Regions from separate parts of the Homo sapiens genome. Here regions 2 and 3 are each linked to region 1. The links come from fine-mapping of genetic effects on gene expression. A gene starts in region 1. Each other region holds a variant in brackets. All regions are shown on one strand. Distances are from middle to middle.

Region 1 (4,232 bases):
CACAGTCCCAACACATGGAGCAGTAACTATCTCCCCCATCATCCCACCCCTAAAAGCACCCCTCTGTGGCCCAGCCCAATGGACAAGAGATGCTGTCATTCCAGCTCTATCTGATGGAAGGCTACACAGGAGGCTGCCTGCTCAAGGACATATCCTTGGTATCATTCCAGGCCACCTTGATCTCGGAGTTCACAATAGCCTGTGGGCTAGATGGCTGAAAGGGAAAACAGAACTCACCACCACCATTTCAGCCTGCACCACATGCAGAGAATGCACACATGCCAGCTGCCAGCCAGGCAGCCCTTGACCGCATCCAAGGCCCCTTCATCTAGATAGCACTGCCAAACTAAGCAGGGCTGGTTCCACTTCGGCAGAAACTGGCAGAGCAAAGAGGTAGTAGACCAGCACCCTCTGCCCCCACATTCTGGAGAGGAAAAGTCAGAGCCTCAACTGGAGTCTGTGAGCACCATGTGGTGCTGAGGAAAGATTCGGAGAACCCTGTTCAAGGAATGACTAGTTACGTGACCTTGGGCAAATCAACATCTTCATTTTAAATACTAATGGTTGAAATGAGATAAATGGGGTAAACTCAAATGGGTCTGAGCAAAGGTACAACAGCAGCACAGGGAGAAAGGTTCTTACATTATAAGGCTCTGTATAAGTGAAGAAAAACTAGTGTCACCTGGTGGCCTATTCCAGGTTACCACTCAGAAGGGGGCACTGTTTACAAACCCAGGGGTGGGGGTGGGGCCTGGTTAGACAGCAAAGTGAAAGTATGAAATTGGCACCATTTTGCCTGCAAGCTCACCTGCTCCACTGCCTCATTCCCAAAGTCCAAAGGAGCAACTTTGTTACAGTAATTAAAAGCCACCTTACTCTCCAGGAAAGAGCCTGCGGTTACATAATATTGGTCTTACGACTACAATGGCCCCCCAGGCATCTGAGAGAGGTGAAGCCCAACCCCTACCACCCCTGTCCAAGGTGCCGGTAAGCAAAGCACAGGAAGGTGTCCAGCCTAGCCCCTCCCTCCTTGGGAAAAAGCAAGGGACCTGGGCCTCCAGATAGGAGGAAGATGGCCAGAGGGCCCCAGGCCAGCAGCCTCAGTCACGAGCCAAGGCTCCTGTGAAAAGCACAAAGGGCACCCCAGGACAGCTCCCATCCTCTATTCCTGGTTTTGCAACCAAAAAAAAAGGCTAAATCTCCGAATGACACGGACCACCATCCCCACCCGCCAATACACACACACTTCTACTTCCCTCTTCGGGCTCTCCAAGTGGGCCGTATCCCTCCACTATCCCATCCTCCAGAGCGCTGCGGTCCCGAAGGGCAGCACCTGGGGAACGAGGAAGCATCCTCCTTCCCCCCGACCTCCCGCCCGCGCCGCCGGCCAGGTCCGCAGGCCCCGGCCGGTCGGCCGCCCTCCCCCACCCGGCCTGGAACAGCGCCGGAGTGACTGGGCGTCCTCGCTGCAGGAAGGACGCCCCAGAGGGTGGCGGTGGCGGCAGGAGGAGCCGCGTCACGCCCGAGCCCTCTCCACCCCCTCTTCCCCGGCCCCTGACATCAGGGGCCTCCACGCAGCGCAGAGAGACTCCCGGGGGCGGGGGCAGCGGCAGCTCCGCAGCCCGGGCCTCCAGCAGCGCCACGAGGGTGGCCGGGGCAAAGGGTGGCGCAGCCCGGGCTGCGCCGAGAGGGAGGGGCGGCGGGGGCGCGCTGCGCTGCCCGGACCGTCAACGCCAAGGGCTGCGGGGCCAGCCCTGTTCCAGGCCTTGGGGCCGGCTAAGGAGGCCGCAGGGCCACCGCGGCGAGGGCCGGGTCGTGTAGAGTCGCACGCGACGGACACAGGCCCGCCACCCGGGGGACGCCCCCACCCACCGCTCACCTTCACGGAGGCGAGTCCGCACTGGGCCCTGGGGAGGAGCGATGGCCCGAGGCAGAGCACAGGCAGGGGCGGTGTTCCCTGGGCTCCTCCTGCAGCTGCAGCAGCCGCCGCCGCCGCGGTCTCCGGCTCCCGCAGCCCGAGGCCGATCGCTCCCTGCCGCGGTCCGCCCTTGGAGTTTCGCCGGCCGCCCGCGCTCCGCCTCACGCCGCCCGCCCGCCCGCCCGCTCCGCACTGGCGCCTCACAGCTCCGCTCCGCTCTGCCGCTGAGCGCGGCCGACGCGCGGCCCCCGCTGAAATAGTGCCCCGCCCCCGCCCCCCCGCCGCGCGCGCCGCCGTCCGCGCTCCCCATTGGCTGAGCCCGCCCGGCCCCGCACTGCGGGCTTCTCCCCGCGCCGCTCTCGCCCCACATCTTGTTTCCTCCCACAATGCCTCGGGGCGGAGGGAGGGGGTGGGGAGGAGGAGCTGGAGCGGGTGGGGGAGGGAGCCGTGGCCTTAAGAAAGGAGAGGAATGCGGACCCCTCCCCCCGGGGCTGGAGAGGCCAGGCCTGAAAAGGAATAAAGAGACATGGTCCTGAGAGAGGAGGAGAGGGAAGGGTGTGGAGACCCCCAGTCCCAAGGAGAAAAAAGGGAGAGGGGGATGGAGATTTCAGACCCAGGGAACAGATGGGGCTGAGGTAGAGACCCCAACCTTAGAGAGGGGAGGAGATGAAGTCACCAGCCTCAGAGGAAAAGACAGGACACTCCCTCCTCCCGTATCTGTGAGAAAGAGAGGGACAGCCAGCCCTATGGAGAGGGAGAGGCATAGGAGCCCCAGGACTCCCTCCCCTCACCTTCCGGGAAGGTCCCTTCTTCCTCCTTTGTTCTTTGAGGCTGAAGGACCTAAACTCCCAGCTGGGCCCCCAGCCGGTATTTGTCTACAGGAGCAATGGAGACAGAGCCGAAGCAAAATTGATGGGGATGTGTCTTTGGTACGCAGGCCTCTGCTGTCCTTGCACATTTATGGCCTTGGGGTCCTGGGATGGGGGTGAGAGTGAGCGATTTCTTGTCGTCTGTCCCTGCCTGTCCAGGTAGACAAGGTTGGAGGAGAGTGAATAGAAGCCCCCAGAGGTGGTGCCTGTCAGAGCTGTGAGGAGCCTTCAAAAACCACCCATCCACACCCCTCACTTTATAAAGGAGAGAATCCAAGTACAGAGAGCCCTGCCAGATCCCGCAGGTCAGGCTTGACTTGCTTCTAGCTGAAAAGAGGTGCACCCAGGAAGCAGCCCCTCTGGAGGCTCAAGAGACTACTTCTGGGAGAGTGGGTGTGAACGTGCGCGTTGGGAGCCTGCCTGCCCTCACTCCATCCCACTCCCAGGAAAGATCCTCAGGCCTGCGGTTTTCTTTCTGGTCTGTTTTATACAGAAGTGTCTACCTCAAGGGCTGACGAGCCTTTATTGGGAACCAAGCATTTTGGCCATACAGTAGGGATTAAGAAGCTGCCGGGGATAGCTCCCACTCCCATCTTTTCCCCTTCGCCTCTCCAAACCATGGTCAGGAAGTCAGACTTGCCCTGGCCCTGGCCTGCTCTGGTTTGAAGCATCAAAAGTTAGTGTTCGTTATGTGTCAGGGGAAACCTGGAAAAATCATTCCCTCTGGTTACTGCTTTCCACAGTTCTGTCCTCTAACAACCTCAGTTGGGGGATTTCAGAGACCAGTTAAGGCCTGGGGTATCCCCTCACACTAAGGGTTTTCTGATGTCAGTCTTTGTGTTCATGAATGGGAGGCGTGGCCTCTATGGGAGGAAGGGAGGGAGACGAGGAAGGATGATTTATACACTTAGGGCTTGTGCGGGGCTAATCGCCTGGACTGCCTGGAGAAAGCGAAGCTAGTACCCCCTTTCTCCAACAGTCCTTAGTTTCCAGGCCCTTCCAGGGCCTGAAGGTCAGATCTGCCACGTATGGTTGCACAGGTCATTCACTGCGCAAGAGTATCCAACCGATGGAGCAAGCGGGTGCTAAAATACAGCCGGCACACTGCTTGCTAGCCTGTGTGTCACGGTACAAGCCAGTGTCCAACCAGAAGATGACTTCTTTCAAGTGTTCCCAAGGGTTACTATGAGCTAGCAGTGGCCCTTCAAAGGCCATGCTGCCAGGGCATAAATCCTCCCTCTCCCTGCTCCCCTTCCCTGAAGTATAATAGGGATAAGAGCTTGCTCATTTCCAGGCTGTGGTGTGGTGGACAGAAGGGCACGAAGAACTTCAACTAACAGAAGTCAGAGCCACGGGTTTTCACTTTTAGGAAATGTGAATATCAGTGCTCTTGTGTGTGTGTGTGTGTGTGTCAAGGACTAAACTGTAGAATAACAGGGAGATGT
Region 2 (4,232 bases), 55 kb after region 1:
GTAAAGACGGGGTTTCACTATGTTGGCCAGGATGGTCTTGATCTCTTGACCTCATGATCCACCCGCCTCAGCTTTCCAAAGTGCTGGGATTACAGGCATGAGCCACTGCACCCGGCCCATGTTTTACATTTTAATTATGATGATGATGTAAATATTGCTCAAGGTTGAGCCAATGTTTTACTATGATTTTTCTTCATTTTTTGTTCATTTGGTTCTCTTAGAATCAATATTGCCTCATTGTTAAAAATAAACTCTTAAAATTTTAGAATAGTTTTAGTTCACAGAGTTGTTGAGAAGATAAAACAGAAAGATCCCATATACCCCACACCCAGTTTCTCATATTACATTAGTGGGTATATCTGTCACAATTAATGAAACACTAATGATACATTGTTATTAACTAAAGTTAATACTTCATTCAGATTTCCTCAGTGTTTCCCTAATGTCCTTCTTCTGTTCCAAGATCCCACGCATGATACTTTGTTACATTTAGTTGTCATGTCTCTGTAGACTCCTCTTGGTTATAATAGTTTCCCAGACTCTCTTTGTTTTTATAATGTTGAAAGTTTTGAGGATTACTGGTCAGGCATTTTGTAGAATGACTCTCAATCAGGATTTGTCTGATGTTCTTGTAATTAGACAGGGGTAACATTTTTGAAGAGGAAGATCACGGAAGTAAAGTGCCATTTTTATCATGCCATACCAAGGTTACGTGTTATCAATATGACTTATCATTGTTGATGTTAATCTTGATTGAATGGCTTGATGGAGTTTATCAGTTTTCTTCACTCTAAAGTTACTTTCCCCTTTTCATTTGTCTTTTTTTTTTCTTTTTTTTTTAGATGTTGTGTCGCTCTGTCACCCAGGCTGGAGTGCAGTGGCGCGATCTCCGCTCACTGCAACCTCCGCCTCCTGGTTCAAGCAATTCTCCCTGCCTCAGCCTCCCAAGTAGCTGGGACTACAGGCACCCACCACCACACCTGGTTAATTTTTATATTTTTTAGTAGAGACAGGGTTTCACCATGTTGGCCAGGCTGGTCTTGAACTCCTGACCTCAGGTGATCCACCTGCCTCGTCCTCCCAAAGTGCTGGGATTACAGGCAGGAGCCACCACACCCAGCCTGCCCCCTTCATTTCTATACTGTACTATAAAAGAAAACCACAGGCTGGGCTCCTAATACATTTAATCATGTATTTATATCATTTATACTTTGGTGATACTCCAATACTACTTTGTGTATTTTTTTTCTTTGTTATTTCTCAGATTGTTTTAGCTTGGGCCATTGGGTGCTCTGTCAGTTGGGTCCTATATCCTTTATACATATCCCCATTATTGTGGTGGTTTTTTTTTTTCTTTCTTTCTTTCTTTCTTTCTTTCTTTTTTTGAGACGGAGTCTTGCTCTGTTGCCCAGGCCGGAGTGCAGTGGTGCGATCTCGTCTCACTGCAACCTCCACCTCCTGGGTTCAAGCAATTCTCCTGCCTCAGCCTCCTGAGTAGCTGGGATTACAGGCACATGCCACCACCATGAGCTACCGTGGCCGGCCTCATGGTGGGTTTTTAGTTTGGTTTTGGTTTTGTATGCACTTTCTTACTTTACGGCACTAAAAGATGCTCCAGACTCATTACGTATATTTCCT[G/T]TCCCAGTCCTACAATCAATCATTTTTCCAAGGAACCCTGGCTCTTTTATTGGAGAATGGTATTAGAAACCAAGATCTGGGTGCTAGGTGTGCTCATTGCTACTGGGGTGTCTTGCTTCTAGGCCCTCTCAGCTGACAGAGCAAGGAGAGATATGTGTGTATACTAACATGTGTGTGTATATATATATATATGCATATTTATAAATATATATATATGTAGCCATCTGTGTTAGTCAGTTTTTGCATTACTAAAAAGAAATACCTAAGGCTGGGTAATTTATAAAGAAAAAAGATTCAGTTGGCTCAAGATTCTGCAGGCTGTATAGAAAGCATGACACTAGCATCTGCTTGGCTTCTGGTGAGGCCCCAAGGAGCTTTTACTCATGGTGGATGGTGAAGCAGCAGCAAGCATGTCACATGGCAAGAGAGAGAGCAAGAGAGAGAGAGAAAGTGGGAGGTCCCAGACTCTTTTTTTTTTTTTTTTTTTTTTGAGGCAGAGACTTGCTCTGTCACCCAGGCTGGAGTGCAGCCATGTGATCTTGGCTCACTGCAGCCTCTGCCTCCTGGGTTCAAGCAATTCTCCCTGCCTCTGCCTTCTCTGGGTGGCAGTGGGGCTTCTTTCTGGCAAAGAGCTTTAGGAGTCCTTTTATTAAATCCTCATGGTTTGGTTTTGTTTAGTTTTGTTTTTGAGACAGAGTCTTGATCTGTCACCCAGGCTGGAGTGCAGTGGCACAATCTTGGCTCACTGCAACCTCCACATCCTGGGTTCAAGCGATTCTTCTTCCTCAGCTTCCCAAGTAGCTGGGACTACAGGCACACACCACCACACCTGGCTAATTTTTGTATTTTCAGTAGAGACGGAATTTCACCATATGGGCCAGGCTGGTCTGGAAACGGAGTTTCACCATATTGGCCAGGCTGGTCTGGAACTCCTGACCTCGTGATCCGCCTGCCTTGGCTTCCCAAAATGCTGGGATTATAGGCGTGAGCCACCACGCCTGGCCCCAGGCTCTTTTAAACAACCAGATCTCACATGAACTAACTGAGCAAGAACTCACCCATTATCACAAGGACAGCACCAATCCATTCATGAAGGATCCACACCCAAGACCCAAACATTTCTCATCAGGCTCCACCTCTAACATTGGGGATCTCATTTCAACATGAGCTTTGGTGGAGACATACATCCAAACCATATTAAGGTAAACACGAGTTCATGCTGATTTCTCTAATTCTAATTACCACACAGATTATTCTAGCCTCTGCCTCTTGCTTGTCTGTAAGCTTTCCTTCTAACAAAGAGAACCCCACTTTCACCATTGGCCATCCATTTTCTTAATTGTTCAATTCCAATATACATGTATAATGATTTTGGAATTCTTAACCTGTATCCCTGTGAGAAACAACTAGTTTTTTTTTAATTAACTAGTATATTTACGGTGTTTATATAGAATGCCTTTTGCCTTATAATTACAGACTCCACTCATTTCCAAAGTTACAGAGGTCAGACCCTTATTCCCTCATCCTCTCTGGAAAGATTGCTTTGTATGTTCGCAACACATTTAGATTCCTTTGTCACATTCTGCATTTCGTGCTGAGTTCCCCCAACCTCCTAAATGATTTAAATTTTCATACATTAAACTTTACTTTTTGTATAGTAGTTTTAGGGTTTTAACAAATGCCTAATGTCTCATGTTCACTATTACAGTGTCATGCAGAATCATTTCATCTCCCCAAAAAACCCTGATTGCTTCACCTATTCAACCTTCCTCCTTGAGACCCTGTTGACCACTGATCTGTTTACCATTTCAGTAATTTTGCCTTTTCCAAAATGTCATATAATTGAAATACAGCATGCAGTTTTTTCAGACTCCTCTCTTTCACTTAGCAATATGCATTTAAGATTTTTCCATATCTTTTCATGGTTTGATAGCTCATTCATTTTTATTGCTAAGCAATATTCCACTGTATGAATGTATCGATCCCATTTTTCATGCACTTAGATTACCTTAAACTTATAGTTAAATCTTGCAACACTACCCAACATTGAAGTGTTTTCATGCAAGTTTTACACGGTCAGTTGGTCAATGCTGTCAGATGATCTACCAGTTCCTTCTCTCCCCACCTCCTGCCCAGAGATACCACACCTGCAGTTTTCCATGGTCACCCCTCCAATCTAAACTAGCAGTCCTTGGCCAGGCGTGGTGGCTCACACCTGTAATCCCAGCACTTTGAGAGGCAGAGGCAGGCGGATCACCTGAGATCAGGAGTTTGAGACTAGCCTGGCGAAAATCCATCTCTACTAAAAATTCAAAAATTAGCTGGGTGTGGTGGCACGTGCCTGTAATCCCAGCTACTCAGGAGGCTGAGGCAGGAGAATCACTTGAACCTGGGAGGCAGAGGTTGCAGTGAGCTGAGATGGCGCCACTGTACTCCAGCCTGGGCACCAGAGTCAGACGCCGTCTCAAAAAATATAAAATAAAATAAAAAATAAAATAAAATATAGAATAGAATAGAATAAAATAATAAAATAAAGCAGTCCTCTAACGAAGCTATAGAATCGTTGTCCTGGATCTGTTCCTTGATATCATGCT
Region 3 (4,232 bases), 22 kb after region 1:
GTAAAGGAATTGTTGGGTTGTGACTGTCCTTTTTGTTCATAATTAAAAAAAAAATTTAGAGATGGGGTCTTGTTATGTTGCCCAGGCCGGCATACAGTGGCTATTCACAGGCACAATCGTGGCATACTGCAGCTTTGACCTCCTGGCCTCATGTGATCCTCCTGCCTCAGCCTCCCTAGTAGTTGAGATTACAGGTGCACACCACCATGCTCAGCTGTTTATAATTATTGACCATCATGTTCTAGCTGATCCCTATGGAGTGAACATTCTTTTAATTAAAAGTTTCTAACTAGAAGATACTGTATCCTTGCTGTGTCTATTCTATAATATTTAGAATATTCCATTTTCTTCTGAGTCCATAGCAGAGTTTTAGCCCCAGCTTCCCAACGCTACCTGATCTCCTGTCATCAGTTCTCGTATGTGATGGAAACAGGGGGGTGACTCTGTAGCCAGCACACCCACAATGCCTCACAGCTTACATAAACAAAACAGTGTTGTTCTGAGATGTCCACACTGCAGTTCCTTTCCCCCACACAAATGCCTGATGTTTCATCGTCCCAGGGAAGAATTCGGGCCTAGGGAGCAGTCAGTAATCTGGGCTCCTGGCTGTGGTTTGGCTATCTCGCAGCTGACAGGAGGTAGCTCTGGCCACGCAGAAAGTGGCACAGGATTCTTTGTCTGGCACCTTAGGGTGGCCAGTAGCACAGTTTAGTGAGCTTGTAAAGCTGGTTACCAATTTGCATGGCTGTATTAATGAACCTTCCAAAACTGAGAACATGTTTATACAATGGATTTCCTACCCTAAAAAGAGTCTATGCGGCCGGGCACAGTGGCTCACGCCTGTAATCCCAGCACTTTGGGAGGCTGAGGCGGGCAGATCACGAGATTAGGAGATCAAGACCTTCCTGGCCAACGTGGTAAAACCCCATCTCTACTAAAAATACAAAAATTAGCTGGGTGCGGTGGCGGACGCCTATAGTCCCAGCTACTTGGGAGGCTGAGGCAGGAGAATGGCGTGAACCTGGGAGGTGGAGGTTGGAGTGAGTCAAGATCGTGCCACTGCACTCCAGCCTGGTGACAGAGAGAGGGACTCCGCCTAAAAAAAAAAAAAAAAGAAAGAGTCTATGCATACAGCACACCAGCCTTCAGTCACCACTCTTACAGCCAGAGTCTTCAAGAAATTATGTGGGCCATGCCTCTCCCTCTGAGTGGCCCCCAAGGCCCAGCCTTACAGTAACTGACCCAGGCTCTCACACAGGGCACTGGGGTCCTGCCCCAGGCTCCGGGCTCTACCCACAGCACAGGCTGGGGCTGATGCTGAGCAAATGGGTTGTGGCTGTCGCCAGAGAGGAACTGGCAGCAGACGCAGCAGACTATGTTTTCTTTGCAGGCTGAGGGTAACTGGAAGAAGCCGAGAATTCCTCTGCTCTGCCTTCGGGAGGAGGGGATGAGAGAAGCAGGGAAGACCAGCAGCAATCTCTCCAAAAGAGAAGTTCCTCCAGCTCCTAGGATGAGCAAGATAGTATAGACAAAAGATGGAAAGAGGACAACCTAGGACCCCAGGGAGTCCCTGGTATAGATATCAGGAGCCTAGGTCCCCTGTCTGGAACTGCTCTAGGGGAGTCATGATAGTAGCTAACATTCATTAAATGTTTGCTCTGTGCCAGGCACCCTGCTCAGAACTCAGTTGCACTGTGAAGACAGTTTCTACAGGGGCTGAGAACATAGGCCTAAGCAACACACCACTAGGTTCAAATCCCCATTGTGGCTACTCATTAGCTCTGTGACACTGAGTAAGCTGCTTACCCCCTCTGTGCCTCAGTTACTTCATTCATAAAATAGGAATACAAATAGTACCCACCTGATAAAGTTTGAGGATTAAATGCTTCACAAACAGAAAGCTTTTAGCACCATGTCTGCCCTGGAGTAAACAGGAAACAAATTTTTGCCGTCACTACTTTATTGAATCCTCACACAAAGCTTTAAAGTAAATGTTCTTAATCTCCGAGGCTCAAAGGATTCAAATACTTGCCCAAGGTCCCAGGTTCGTTTGATTGACAGAGCATGAGTACCCTCCTAAATGCCCCTTGAGGTCTCTATATTTAGGAGGAAGCAGCTTCAGAACTCTAGCTCCCCACCCCAGGTCCATTCCAGTTTAGAAACTCCACAGCCACCTCAACAGCAGGAACAAAGGTGGGTCTCTGTCCTGCCTCTGGGGCCAGGCTGGCTGATGGCTTCAGGCCCAACCAAAAGATCCCTTCCACCCACCCGACTCTAGCAACACCCACATCACCAACCCTGGGCCTCCCACCAGAGCCTCCACCTTCTAGGAAGTCACCCTCCCTCCTGCAAGATGCTGGTGGCTGAGACTGGAGGGACCCTTTCAATTTCAGGATAAACAAACTGTCGTTCTGGCCCAGCCCTCTGCCGGCTTGCTGCTTCC[C/T]GCCCCCCTCCATCCGCAGTGCACAGTCGCTCTGTTCTCCTGCCAACTTGGCAGCTCATCGCTGCTGTTACTATCAACACCTCCAAGGGAAAAGGGAGAGGAGTCAGCTCTGATCGCCTGGCGCACTGTGCAGCAAATTCATGTCAGAGCCAGCCTTGGAATGTCTCCCAAGCTCCCAAGGCTCCTGGTGAGGAGGAAAAGGTGGGACTCATGTTGCTGAGGACAGATGGGGCTGGGGAGTGACCCTGGGCCTAATTAGAGCAGCCTCCCAGCAGAGCCACTCACTGGTCCTGGCCAAAGCTGCAAGCCCCCAGGAGCAGGTGGCTCTGATAGAAAGCATTGTAGAAGAACACTCTGGGGGCCTTGTAGATGTGTAGGAGAGAACTTGGGGGGTCTGGGTCTCACCCTAACTCTTGCCAGAGTCCAGGGCAGTTCCCAAGATGGTTGGGACCTCTGGGTCTGTGGCCAGGATCGGGAAAAACAGGTCTTTCCCTGTCCAGTCTGTGAGCTCCTAGAATCTCTGGCCTGTGTCTTCTTTCCTCCATCTTTCTTGGACTCCATGTGTGCAGAGCTCTTGTCTCTCCTGTCGGATTGGATTGAGAGCCCCTAAGGGACCACACTTTCTCTGCCAAATGGAAACGTCCCGCAGGCAGACAACCTTTTCCTATTCCCAACTCCCTCCCCCAGCCTCTTAGGCCCCACCTATTGGCTCCATAAAGCAACTGATGCCCTTCTCTGGCTCCTGATGTGACTCCTGGAGCCCAGCTGGGAAGAACAGAGAACCTGTATCTTCAAGGACCCAGTGTCCCTCCTGGACCATAGCCTGCCCGCAGCACAGGGTCGTGGTCAGTCATCCACCCTGACAGGACCCAGGGGAGTCAGCATGCAGCTCTCCCAGGAGGAATGGCCTCTCTAGGTTTCTCCCTGCTTGTCAAGAGAAGGCCTTTGTTCCCTGCTCTAGGGTTTTTGGTGTCAGCCAAAGTGGTGGTTTCAGGGGAAGCTTCCCAATCCTTGCACCGCTGGCCATCTAGTCTACCCAAGGATGTGGTTGTCAGCTCCCCTCTGGGTGCCGCCAGCCTGTTTCCTTCTCTGTAACACAGGGATAACCTTAGGTACCTCACTGGGTTACAGCCGATGGTGATGAAGACATGAAGATGATGCCTGTGTTCTCCTTGGGTAGGTCCTGGCACTTAGAATCAGTATGTTTTCCTTCCTTCCCTCCTTTTCTTCCTTCTTTACTTCATTCATCTCTCCACTCTCTCCAGGAGCCTTTCTCCCAGATGTGAAACTGATCCTAAGACCCCCTGTAATTTCCTGCTGAAAATCTCCACCAAGAAACACAGCCACAGCCACAGTTCTTCCTGGTAAGAAGCCCCCAGGGCCAGGCAACAAGAAAAGTGAGCTCGTTCAGCAGGCTGGGATGTAAATAAGCCACAAGAGGCTGTGCCATTCTGGGTTGCACCTGTGAGCATCACTCAGCTGAAGCCCCATCAGCGTTTCCATGACAAACTCGTATTTCCGGATGCCTTTCTTCCAGCTTGAAGAGCCTGCCTCGTGGTGAGACTTGACACTGAAAATGCTTCCATATTTTTTTCCCTAAAAAAGCTTGCATGCTCTAAAAATCCACATGTTTATTAGATGTGTTTGCTCTTCATTCTGAGAGTTTTGTTGACATTATATGTGTATAGTATACACCAAGCAGGTAATATTCATGTGGGAAGTTCTGTGGTGGAGAGCCATGTGGCAAATACACAGCTACCACACATCATAACAAGATGTCTCCCTTCCC

What was found. PIP is the estimated chance that this variant, and not a neighbour inherited with it, causes the effect.
Region 2: its variant is fine-mapped to the expression of DYNLL2 in nasal epithelium (TOPMed, PIP 0.96).
Region 3: its variant is fine-mapped to the expression of DYNLL2 in whole blood (TOPMed, PIP 0.98).

Annotation. Positions count from the first base shown.
Region 1 is chr17:58,081,331-58,085,562 of GRCh38, reverse strand. It overlaps DYNLL2 (dynein light chain LC8-type 2), which reads right to left and starts at 2,144. Exons shown (of 3, transcript NM_080677.3): 1 at 1,880-2,144. It overlaps DYNLL2-DT (DYNLL2 divergent transcript), which reads left to right and starts at 2,359. Exons shown (of 3, transcript NR_110809.1): 1 at 2,359-2,847; 2 at 2,947-4,232. RefSeq lists silencers at 1,355-1,484, 1,525-1,944, 1,985-2,044, 2,055-2,404 and an enhancer at 2,121-2,415.
Region 2 is chr17:58,026,611-58,030,842 of GRCh38, reverse strand. No RefSeq gene overlaps it. Among named protein-coding and RNA genes, the nearest start is that of SRSF1, 21 kb to the right of the region's middle. The variant G/T (reference allele first, on the strand shown) is at 1,639.
Region 3 is chr17:58,059,035-58,063,266 of GRCh38, reverse strand. It overlaps LOC105371840 (a long non-coding RNA gene), which reads left to right and starts at 3,323. Exons shown (of 4, transcript XR_001752951.2): 1 at 3,323-3,619; 2 at 3,709-3,807. The variant C/T (reference allele first, on the strand shown) is at 2,444.